3 separate regions of the Homo sapiens genome follow, and all the other regions are reported to be linked to region 2. The links are microRNA targets in miRTarBase. Many come from high-throughput screens and were not tested one by one. Region 2 holds a microRNA gene; each other region holds the end of a gene's coding sequence. Distances are from middle to middle.
The links. The annotated mature microRNA hsa-miR-610 reads UGAGCUAAAUGUGUGCUGGGA and lies in region 2 at 2,913-2,933, opposite strand. An mRNA with a match to its seed (bases 2 to 7 or 8) in the 3' UTR can be bound and repressed. Matches are read on the target gene's strand: a 7mer-m8 pairs with bases 2 to 8, a 7mer-A1 pairs with bases 2 to 7 and ends in A, and an 8mer does both.

Region 1: the mRNA of TMEM135 is a reported target of hsa-miR-610. Seed matches in the 3' UTR shown: 7mer-A1 at 2,945-2,951 and 7mer-A1 at 645-651.
Region 3: miRTarBase lists PNPLA6 as a target of hsa-miR-610. Seed matches in the 3' UTR shown: 7mer-A1 at 3,730-3,736.

Annotation. Positions count from the first base shown.
Region 1 is chr11:87,320,895-87,325,140 of GRCh38, reverse strand. TMEM135 (transmembrane protein 135) reads right to left here. Exons shown (of 15, transcript NM_022918.4): 15 at 1-3,940. The coding sequence ends at 3,808. It also overlaps the pseudogene LOC100420680. Among named protein-coding and RNA genes, the nearest start is that of TMEM135, 290 kb to the right of the region's middle.
Region 2 is chr11:28,055,517-28,059,762 of GRCh38, reverse strand. MIR610 (microRNA 610) reads right to left here and starts at 2,948; the gene lies at 2,853-2,948. It overlaps KIF18A (kinesin family member 18A), which reads left to right. Exons shown (of 17, transcript NM_031217.4): 13 at 602-837.
Region 3 is chr19:7,561,119-7,565,364 of GRCh38, reverse strand. PNPLA6 (patatin like domain 6, lysophospholipase) reads right to left here. Exons shown (of 32, transcript NM_001166114.2): 31 at 4,048-4,157; 32 at 3,601-3,877. The coding sequence ends at 3,803. Among named protein-coding and RNA genes, the nearest start is that of PNPLA6, 28 kb to the right of the region's middle.

The DNA.
Region 1 (4,246 bases), 59 Mb from region 2:
CCAATCTGAGGGTCATCTCAGTCCTTGACACTCCTTTCTTTGTTAATTCCACAAGAAGAAGAAATTATAGAGCTGGCACCAATGGTGGCTTCAGCACCAATAGTAAAGGGCTGGAGGCAATTGTAAACATCACCTCCACAATGAAGGTAACCTTATTACTCATCACATTCAAAGTGCAGCCCTAAAGAAAATAATCACTTCTTATTCCTTTTCTTGTATTTTTTTCTTGGCCACTCATTTTCAGCTGAGTGAAGTATTCTACTATGTGAAAATGATTACTAGAAGGAGGTGTTAGGAGAGAGAATGTTTATAAGATATCTTAGTAAGAAATGTATACTTTTGCCTTTGGGAAACAAAGGACAACTTTGTTGCTGTGTCAAACTACTTAATACTCATACAAATAAAAATATGGCTAGGTACCGTGGCTCACACCTGGAATCCCAGAGTCCCGGGAGGCCAACCCAAGAGGATCACTTGAGGCCAGGAGTTTAAGACCAGCCTGGACAACATAGCAACACCTTGTTTCTACAAAAAAAAAATAAATAAAATAAATATTAGCCAGGCATGGTGGCACATGCCTGTTGTCCCAGCTATTAGAGACTGAGGGGAAATAATTGCTTGAACCAAGGAATTTGAGGTTTCAATGAGCTATGATTGCACCACTGTACTCCAACCCGGGCAACAGAGCTAGACCTCAACTCAAAAAATAAAAAAATAAATCACACGGAGAATTTAAGGAATCTCTGGGCTAATAATTTCTCTGCTCCAAAAACAACATTTGGGCCATTGCTCCAGTGGTCAGTTCCCTTCAGTCCCACAAGAAGCTTCCTAATTAGCACCAAGGGAGAGGTTGTGACACAGGCAAGTGGACGAAGCTCCCTGAGAGTAAAGGACATTGCTTTTCATTACCTATGAAATGTAGAGCACACAGAAGCTCAGGGATATGATAAAATATAAGCAGGAAACAATTACGTCAGCATTAACAACTAAATGAAATGTTAGCCTAGATACAATCTACAAGGAGACGAACACTCGAGCACAACAAGAAAATACTGTGTGACATTTGCTCAGTTTGGATTCCATCAAAAACATACATGTTCAGTCTAATAAAAGTTCATTATAAAATCTGAGAGCCAAAAAAATATAAAATTCTAAATTAAATAACAACTGACTAAACAACGAATGAAGGCAAAAAATAAACTAGATATCAACTGAGTGATGACTATGCTTATAGTTCAAGAAAAAAGTTACAGAAGCAAAAGCAGAATTTATGGGAAAATAAAACTAAACCAAAGGTGTTACTTCAAAAATGAGTAATAAAATGGATCCTGAAATTATTTGATGAAAAACTGCTGAGAATTGAATAGATTTGAGACAATCTGTTATCTTGCAAACTCAATCTTTACTCGGTTGCTACTAGTTCTAGGATTTTATTAAAACAGAAAATAGCAACGAAATGACCATAATACCACTGCCCCAAATGCACGGTTTTTCAATCTCAATCTATATAAAAATGTCAGAAAGACTAAGGGGACATATTATTGTTTACTGTAATCAGTTCCAGTGAAAACTTACCATTTCTTCAGGATATAAATAAACTAAAAAACATATTTTGGAATGCAGAGATCTATTTTACTTTATTTATAATGCCAAAAAGTTGTCAATCAATACCTGATTAGTTAGAGGTAGAAAGGTAATCATTCTGATTGTCTTCAAAAACACAAAGTTTCTTTGTGTTTGCTCAAACAACTACACTTTGCAGTCTGTCCCAATGAAATCAAACTGGACTTCTCAATCCACCACTGCAAATTGGTTATTCACTCAACCTATACATTCATCATTGTATTCTGCTTCATGATAGCTATTTCATTTTACATTTTACATAAAATTTAAAAAAATGACTGCAATTTATAAAAATGAAAAGGTAAATTGTAGAAATACACCTTTTTGACCAGCAAAATTTTACTAAACAATCTCAGCAAATTTCGTAATTCATCTTTCAATATCACAGTCTTTTAATGTCAATGAAAACAATAATTTATGAATTAAAACATCTTTTTAAACCTGACAGGAAAATATATAAGCACAATTTCTGGATAAAGAAAATGAGGTGCAGTTCTCAGGGCTTTAGTACTTCATTTTAAACAGTAAACACAGTACCAACCATCGTTTTGATTCCAGTGAATAAAAAGTTAAGATTAAATTTATTAATCAACTTTGAAGTCTGAAACCGAAATGATCCTTTAACAGCATTGCCAAATAAACAGGTCAGTTCTACAAAGCTAATCATAATGCCAAATTTTGACCAAATGATAAAGTGGCTCTGTTACCATAGTACCAGAGTCTGTCTTTTTGTTGGGTTTCTGTTTGCCATAACAACCAAGGATTGAATTACATTTAAGCAGAAGTATACAAGGCTTGATGAAATTGAATATGAGGGATTAAGCATTTTTAAAGTATGGGTTATAATTCCTTTTGCAACACAAGTTCTACTGCATAATTTGCACTGGCCTAAAAACTTTTTAGCAACAAAATGTATTTTAAAAATATCATCATCCCTACATGTCACATTAACTGTAGACCACTTCAGCTCTTTATTAACATAGAAAAGTATAACTTTTCCCTGAAAAACTGTAAATAGCGACCATATTTCAATCACAGCTGTCCTGAACTACTCTCATTATCAGCAGGACTTTATGGTGTCACCTCTTTATTCTAACAGTAAAAATGGTGACAATGATATTCAAGAAGAAGGTTGGAGAACCTGAATGGAATTAGTGACAAATGGACTTTTTAAACAACCACTGGATTTTTATAGTGTTTTCAGGTGCAAAACATCCATTACATAAGTTAAACAGCTGAGAGGACACAAACTGCCAACTTGCCAAGACTACTTTGTTCCATAGGATTTTGATCCCTTCTAATACAACAATGGCATATAAACTGAGCTATGAAGGATTATGTCCATATAAATGAAAACAAACATCATAAACCTATAGGAAGTTTAAAAGTTTTGTTTTTAAATATTCAAGTGTAATACTTCTGTGAAAGATTAAAACATACATTTCAACTTTATCGGATGTGTCCATTTCCATTTGCCCCTAACTTGCCATTAGTACATAGGTTCACTGGGCTGCCAAATAGCCCAATTAACTGGTCATGAAGAGAGATGATGTTATTAGTTGAAAAAAAGCATGGATACCACGACATTTATCCAAATGGTATGAGACCCATCTTTGCATCCCTGAAGTAAGAATGGCCACTTCTCCAATTAAATTGCTCTACACGAAAGCAGCACTGTCCGTGGAGAGTTACTTCAAATCTATAACATTCCACTACTACAGATACCAATTCAAAACTTTAAAAAAATATATAGACCAAATCCATGTACCCGTGATCCTTTGTAAATCCTAAAATGTAGAAATAATCCTAATTTTAATCAAGAATTATATTGGAATGAACTAAAGACATCTTTTAAAGTAATTTTAAGTGTACTCTTGTTTGTTATTACACTTCTACGTAGATTATATAATATTGCTTGTGGACATAATTTGATCAATAATATATAATGTCAGTCACTACAGTGATCCAGAATCTTATTCTGGCTATGGAGGAAGCTTAATTATTAAGCAACATCTTCCTAAAAAGCTTCTGAATTTCTGATTCATAAGAAAAACAAAACAAATGAAAAGAGTATCTCTAACTGAAATAACACTGAAGTTCGAGCTTGGGCCCCCTCCTTTGTGTTCAACATAATTAACTCTTCAAGATGAAACATTTAGTCACATTAATAAGTTACAGTCATCTTCAGGAAAACTCTGTGGGCAACTCTGGTGTTACAGTTGTGTATCTTGGATCCAACCTGGGGATGAAATCCTGAAAGTGTTTAGATGCACCAGTACCAAAAACATCAAGGACTTTTCGGTTCATGACAGCAAATCTGTAAAACAAAGAATACAGTAAACAAGTATTAATATAGTTTATAAAATAAAATAATTCATTTTAGTTGACTTATCTTATGTGGGATGGGAAAACAGAAAAGGCTAACGTGGCAAAGGATCTAAATTCAATGGCAGATTCAAGTCACATGAAGGCTCTTCTTCGAGATACACTGTCTCATATTTTATTTAAAGAGATAATCCAGTTAGGATTAAGGATTAAAGAGATAATCCCCAGATCTGAAACCGCAGAGATTACAACCATTATTTTAAACCCTTCTAGAATTCTTTCCACTAGACTGTATCAA
Region 2 (4,246 bases):
CAAAAAGCTTTTATGTACATTTAATTCATTTAGCTAGGGACAGTGGCTCATCCCTGTAATCCCAGCACTTTGGGAGGTGGAGGCAAGAAGATCTCTTGAGGCTAAGTGTTTGAGACCAACCTGGACAACATAGCAAGACCCCATCTCTACCAAAAAATAAAAAAATTAGTCAGTGTAGTGGCACACATCTGTGGTCCCAGCAACTTGGGAGCCTAAGGTGGGAGGATCAAGTGAGGCCAGGAGTTCGAGGCTGCAATGAGATGATCATGCCACTACACTCCAGCCTGGGCCACAGAGTGAGACCCTGTCTCTAAAAAATAAATAAACAAATATACTTAACTCATTTAGCCCTCAAAGCAATCTCCTATTATAAGTAGTGGCTATTTATCTGTCCCTCACATTACAGAGGAAAAACTTCAGTTTTTGCCTTGTCCAAGGTCATATGGAAGCAAGTGAAGACAATCTGAGACTAGAACTCAGTTCATACATGGGAAATTATTTTAATGATATGCTAATGCTTTGGGTGTTACATAAAAGAACTAAAATAATGTGTTTAAAATGTCATATTTATCTCTCCTTTCTTCTCATCTTCTGTATATAGAGTATTGAATGCTTTACTTCCAACCCTAAGAAAACAATATTGCACATTAAAAGAAGCCGGCCTGTCAAATGCTGCTTTTGAATCTGACTTCAAAGAGATCGAACATTTGGTAGAGAGGAAAAAAGTGGTAGTTTGGGCTGACCAAACTGCCGAACAACCAAAGCAAAACGATCTACCAGGGATTTCTGTTCTTATGACCTTTCCACAACTTGGACCAGTTCAGCCTATTCCTTGTTGTAAGTATAACTTTCGTTTTAAGTAAATAGTAACATTATTTCTAAAGAGAACCTTTGTATATCAATCTATAGAACAGTTAATTTTAATAGGTTTGTCTATTTTATGAAAATTAATGGGAAAATTAGCTTTATAGTCATTTCAATTAACCAGTATCTTCCAAAGATCTAGAACAAGTATGCATTGATGTTCTATATAACTCTAGCAGTAAAATTCATTTTACAACTCTTTTCTTTTTTTTTTTTTTTTTTTTTTTTTTTTTTTTGGTGACAGGGTCTCACCCTGTTGCCCAGCCTGGAGTCCAGTGGTGCAATCAAAGCTTGCTGCAGCCTCCACCTCCTGGGCTCTAGCAATCCTTCCACTTCAGCCCCACAAGTAGCTAGGAATTACAGGCATGCACCACCACTCCTGGCTTTTTTTTTTTTTTTTTTTTTTTTTCCTGTAGAAACAAAGTATCACTGTTACCCAGGCTGACCTCAAACTCCTGGGCTCAAGCAGTTGTCTCCCCTGGCCTCCCAAATTGCTGAGATTATAGGCATGAGCTGCTGTGCCTAACCCATTTTATCTATTTTTGATGGAACAATTTTGCTTCCCATCCTTCTTTAAAATGTAACCTCTATTAAGGGCAGGAAATTATAATTAATCATATCATATTTTATGATAATAATCTGTTCTTAAGATCAACTAACAGTGTAGAGTTTACTATTTTTCTATTGACAAATCACTTGATATTTCTCTTTCTCTCATAAAAGTATGTGTGAGACATTTTAATTGCAAAGCTAACATATAATCTTAGTTAAGAAAAAAATTCAGACAATGTAGAAGAAAAGAAGTAGACTGCCACCTTCAACTCTTCTCAGAACCTCAATTTTATGCCCTATCTCAGAGATTAAATGCTGTTAAATATTTATCTTTGCAGTATGTGTGTAATACACATGTATTACATAAAGCTTTTTGTTAGGTTTCACGTGAATGCTAGCACATTACACATAGTGACCTGCAACTTTTTTGTTTAGTTTATTATGTTTATTGGTTTTATTTGTTTATTATGAACATTTTTAGGGTGCATACATGAAGAATCTACCTCATTTTTTTATTGTTTTTGAGAATCCAGAGAATAGATGTACCATAATTTAATTAACCTTTTTTCTATTAGTGAACAGTACATCAGAGAACACATCTGTGTATTCACATTTGTGCGTGCATAGCAGAATCCTAGAAGCTGATTTGCCAGGTTAAAGGACATATCATTTTTTTTTTAATGCATCATGTTAAACTGCTTTTCATAATTTTTTTCTGTACTTAGTACCCATGAGAGTAACTGTTTCATCTTTACCTAAACCAAAAATAGTAACAACAGCAATAATAATGCATAGTCTTTTTTGTTTTGTTTTTTTTGTTTTGTTTTGTTTTGAGACCGAGTCTCGCTCTGTCACCCAGGCTGGAGTGCAGTGGCGCGATCTCTGCTCACTGCAAGCTCCGTCTCCTGGGTTCACACCATTCTCCTGCCTCAGCCTCCAAAGAAGCTGGGACTACAGGTGCCCGCCATCATGCCTGGCTAATTTTTTGCATTTTTAGTAGAGACAGAGTTTCACCATGTTAGCCAGGATGGTCTCAATCTCCTGACCTCGTGATCCATCCACCTCGGCCTCCCAAAGTGCTGGGATTACAGGCGTGAGCCACCGCGCCCAGCTGCATAGTCTTTTAAAATGTGTAACTCTCAGATTATCGATGAGGCCAATTCATCCCCTGTCAGGTATCCTTTGCTCATTCACACTAGTGGAAATTTTTGTTTATTTGTTATGGGTTTGAGGGGCTTTTTGTTTGCTTGGTTTTTTACTTGGCACTTCGTATCTAATAACTCTTTGTTCATTTGGTGCTGCTTTTTTTTATATATATGTTGAGCAATAATTGATCAATTTATTGGACTTTTAACTTTTATATAGTCAAATCTGCCTATATTTTCCATTATGGGGAATTTTCTTGGGATCTGGTGTTTATTAGCCCCTCACTCCCAACTAGAGTCCATTTTTCTTATGTGAGCTAAATGTGTGCTGGGACATTTGGCTCAAATGTGTCCCAGCACACATTTAGCTCACCTAAGACAAATAGACAAATAGTTGGGAGTGAAGGGCTAATATGTAAGACCTTATTCACAGAGAATAATAGTCTGTTGAAGTCAGATTTTATGTTAAGTGTTGCCCCTCTGAATACAATCTGTCTTCTGGCTTATTGAAATATTTCCTCAGTCTTTGGCTTGTAATAGTTTTATTATGTTATGCCTAGTTGACTTTATTTTTACTTCTCTTAAGTGGGTTCCTGACTTTCTGAATTTGTTTCTGCATTATCTTTTGTTTGTTTTGGAAAATTCTTAACCATTATCTCCTCACCTATTGCTTTTGTCACTTTTGCTCTCTCCTCTACTTCTGGGACTCCAATTATATTGCATGGCACTTTCCCATTGTATTGTCTATGCCCTTTACTCTTTTGCTTTTAATGTTTTTTTCTCTTCCTGGATAATTTTGTTTCTCACATTCTTCAGTTTACTTTCTTTTTTCAGCTTTATCAAATGATCCTTAAATCCATAAAATTTTTAATTTCAGTCGCTATATTTCCAATTCTGGAATTTCCATTTTATTCTTTTTTATAGTTTCATATCTTTGCAAAAATTGTTATTAAGCACAAAGGGTATAATTATAGTCAGCCATCCATATTCCATGGGTTCTGCATCCATGGATTCAACCAACTAATCAAAAAAAAAAAAAACATGGATGGTTTCATCTGTACTGAACATATAGACTTTTTTTGGTCATTATTCCCTGAACAATGCATCATAACTATTTACATAGTATATATATATAGTATTAGGTATTGTAAGTAATCTAGAGATTATTAAAGCATATGGGAGGATTGTATAGGTTGTGTGCAAATGCTGTATTATTTTATATATAAAGGATATGAGCATCCATGAATTTTAGTATGGTCATGCAACCTATCCCTCACAGATACTGAGAGACAACTATAATTTAAAGTCTGTGTCTGAGAATTCCAAAGTCTGTAACCACTGGATCTGTTTAGACTGATTTTCTTGCATGTGGTCTTAATTCCTCATATGCATGCAAATTTTTTGTGTGCCAGTCAGGTATTTGCAAAATTATTTGCAGAATATTTTGATGCATCTGATCATGATATTAAATATCTCAGAGAATATTTACAGTTCCTTCTTTCATATTCTAGGTAGCATTAGCAATTCAGAATCACCTCAGTCCTATTTCAGAGACTGAGGTAATTTGATACTAAACTGTAGTTTCCTGAGGTCCTGCCTATTTCTGATTTGCCCTCTACAGTATAGCTGTTCAGAGTCCCAACTCAAAGCAAGGAAGATTTACAAAGATCCTAAATTCCAGTTCC
Region 3 (4,246 bases), not on the chromosome of region 2:
GTGCAGTGGTGAAATCATAGCTCACTGCAGCCTCGAATTCTTGGGCTCAAGCGATTCTCCTGCTTCGACCTCGCAAATAGCCGAGACTACAGGTGCATGCCACTATGCTCAGCTGATTTTAAAAAGTTTTTTAGAGATGAGGTCTTGCTATGTTTCCCAGGCTGGTCTCAAACTCCTGGGCTCAAGCAATCCTCCTGCCTCAGCCTCCCAAGTAGCTGGGACTATAGGCATGAGCCACTGCACCCAGCTCAGAAATTACTTTTGTATTGTTTTTGCCCCCCAAGACTTTGGTGTTATTTGTTACAGCGGCATAACCTGACTTGTCCTGCCTGATCCATTACACCATCCACATCATGGCAGCTGAGTCTAGCCAAGGGCTTCTATGTTAATTTGCTAGGATTCACTGTCACAAAGTTCCACAGATGGGGTGACTTCAGCAACAAAAACGTATTGTCGGCTGGGTGAGGTGGCTCACGCCTGTAATCCCAGCACTCTGGGAGGCTGAGGCAGTTGGATTGCTTGAGCCCAGGTTCAAGACCAGCCTGGGCAATATGGCAAAACCTTGTCTCCATCAAAAATACAAAAATTAAGCCAGGTGTGGTGGCATGTGCCTGTGGTCCCAACTACCAGGGAGGATGAGGTGGGAGGATGGTTTAAGCCTGGGCGTGGTTGCAGTGAGCTGAGATGGCGCCACTGCACTCCAGGGTGGGCAACAGAGCCAGACCCTATCTCAAAATAAAACAAAACAAAATCAGAGAGAAAGAGAGAGAGTGGGAGTTATCTCAGGGATCTTTGCTTCGTCTTTGGAGCTTGATGTCATTCGACATTTACTGAGCACCTACCATGAGCCAGGTGCTGTTCTATGCAAGGTTCTTCCAGTGATGGAACTTATATTTAAGTGTGTCTTGCAGAGACAGATGAGAAACAAGTAAGCAAGTGAGGCCTGATGTGATGGCTCGTGCCTGTAATCCCAGCACTTTGGATGGCCAAGGCAGAAGGATCAATTGAACCCTGGAATTTGAGAACAGCCTGGACAACCTAGCGAGACCCTTGTCTCTACCAAAATTTTTTTTTAAAAATTATCCAGGTGTGGTGGTGCTTGCCTGTAGTCCCAGCTACTTGGCAGGCTGAGGTGGGAGCATCACTTGAGCCTGGGAGGTTGAAGCTGCAGTGAGCTATGACTTCACTACTGCACTCCAGCCTAGGCAACAGAGTGAGATCCTGTCTCTAAAAAAAAAAAAGTTAATTAAAAACTTTAGGCCGGGTGTGGTGGCTCACACCTGTAATCCCAGCACTTTGGGAGGCTGAGGCAGGCAGATTACCTGAGGTCAGGAGTTAGAGACCAGCCTGGCCAACATGGTGAAACCCCGTCTCTATTAAAAATACAAAAATTAGCCAGGTGTGGTGGCGGTTGCCTGTAATCTCAGCTACTTGGGAGGCTGAGGCAGGAGAATAGCTTGAACCCGGGAGGCAGAGGTTGCAGTGAGCCGAGATGACACCACTGCACTCCAGCCTGGGCAACAGAGTGAAACTCTGTCTCAAAAACAAACAAACAAACAAACAAAACAACAACACCAACAACACTTTATACCTGTAATCCCATCACTTTGGGAGGCCAAGACAGGTAGATCGCTTGAGCCCAGAAGTTTGAGACCAGCCTGGACAATATGGTGAGACCCCCATATCTACAAAAAAAAAAAAAAAAAAACTAGCTGCATGTGGTGACTCGCGCCTGTAGTCCCAGTTACTCGGGAGGTTGAGGTGGGAGGATCACTTGAGCTCAGGAGGTCAAAGCTGCAGTAAGCCGTGATCACATCACCGCACTCCAGCCTGGGTGACAGAGTGGGATCTTGTCTCAAAATAATAATAATAATAATAATAATAATAATAATAATAATAATAATAATAATAGTAATAATAAACAATGAAAACAATAAAAACAAGTGAAGCAACTGTGACTAATGAAGTGCTTTAAAGGCAAGGAGACAGGGGCCAACGGGAACAGGGAAGTTACTGTACACAGTCCGAAGAGGTGACAATTGAGGACAGGCTTAATCAGCTACACAGGGAGTAAAAAGCCCAATTCTGTGCTTTGAGCCAGGAATCGATGGAGAATTTGAGGAATAGAATGAAGGCTGGTACAACTGGAGCCTTGTGAGCCAGGATGGAAGGGGAGCCAGTTAAGATACAGACACCAGTAGGTGCCAAACTATGGACTGAACTTTCCCCTAAATGTCCCCCTCCACCCTCAAAACTCAGAGATCTGGAGGGCGCAGGGATATCGGCGGGGGTGGGGGGGCTTGGAGGGAAAGACACAGAGGGGGCGTCAGTAGCACCTCGGACAGCACCATCCCTGTCCATGGTGCTGACAGCTCGAGGCACTGACAGTCGGTGGGAATTTAAAATGGTGCAGCCGCTATGGAAAAGTTTGGCGTTTCTTCAATTCAACACAGAATCTCCATGTAACCCAACAATTCCACTCCCGGGCATCTAGCCAAGGAAGTTGAAAGCAGGGATCCAGATAGTTGTACACCTGTGTTCACAGCAGCATGACTCCCCATAGCCAAAAGGTGGAAGCAACTCAAGCGTCCAACAGATGAACCAATAAATACCATGTGGTCCATCTACACAATGGGATATTATTCACTCATAAAAAAGATAAACCGTTCTGGCCGGTCAAGGAGGCTCATGCCTGTAATCCCAACACTTTGGGAGGCCAAGGCGGGCAGATCACTTCAGGTCAGGAGTTTGAGACCAGCCTGGGCAACGTGATGAAATGCCGTCTCTACTAAAAATACAAAAATTAAGGCCAGGTGTGGTGGCACATGCCTGTATTCCCAGCACTTTGGAAGGCTGAGGCAGGTGGATGGCTTGAGGCCAGGAGTTTGAGACCAGACTGGCCAACATGGTGAAACCCCTTCTCTACAAAAAATACAAAAATTAGCCAGGCATGGTGGTGCTCGCCTGTGGCCCCAGCTACTTGGAAGGCTGAGGCATGAGAATCACTTGAATCCAAGAGCTGGAGGCTGCAATAAGCTGAGATCGCATCACTGCACTCCAGCCTAGGTGACAGAGAGAGACACTGTCTCAAAAATTAAAACAAAAAACAAAACAAAACCAAAAAACCCCCCCACAAAATTTAGCTGGGTGTGGTGGCGGGCGCCTGTAATCCCAGCTACTCAGGAGGCTGAGGCAGGAGAATCGCTTGAACCCGGGAGATGGAGGTCGCAGTGAGCAGAGATCATGCCACTGCACTCCAGCCTCCAGCCTGGGTGACAGAGTGAGACTCCATCTCAAAAAAAAAAACACAAAAAACAAAAAACACACAGAAAGAAATTGAGGGGTGCCATATCGGGCCCCCAAGAGCACCTGTGAGCCCGGGAGGGTGGCACGGAATGTCTGGCCCTGTGGTCCGGAGTCAGCACTGGCTTCTGAGGAGCCAGAGAAGGGGCAGAGTGGGGACAAGCACCTAGTGGGGCTCCGTGTGGATTCTAGAAAGGCATTCCCTGTGGGGGGCAAGCACCAGGTGGTGTCAGACCCCAGCCCCAGCCATCCTGAGCACAGAAGGTGGGTCCCCAGTCCGAAAACGACAGGAAGCCATTTCCAAGAGGCGAGTTTATTGGGGGAGGGGCTGGTCAAGTCATCAGTGCAACACTGCATCCCCGCTCAGGGCAGGTCAGTCCAGTGTGTGGGCCGCGGGGGTCACAGGCATAGCAGCAGGAGGGGGAGTGAGCTACCCCCACGGGGCCACCCCCAGCCCAGTCCAGGGGTGGGAGGGAGGGGGTGACCCCTGTCGAGGTCCTCAGGCATCTGTGGCTGAGCCGGGCGGCTCCTGGGGCAGACAGCGTCGTTGCCGGAGAATCGACTTCTCCTCCTCCTGCGAGGGAAGGTCACACACACGTCACCCAGCACGGGACACTGATGCGTCACATGTCAGCCAGCACCCAGCACACACAGGATCTCAAATACGCCCCCGGCTCCCCTGCCTGACACTGTACTCATGACCCTCTGGGGGATGTGAGGGGACCCTGGGCCACCCACTCTCACCATCTCGGAGGCAGTGCTGGGGCTTGCGCCCTCGGGGGACCCCCCTTCATCCCTCGAGCAGTCGGGTCCGGCGTCCTCCTCATACTCTGTCAGACAATCTGACTCCTCTCCTGGAATCGGGGAGCAGGGCACAGGTGAGGGGATTGGGGCTGGCCTGCCATCTCCAGCCACTCCCCTCCCTCTTGGGGGGTCCCCTGGG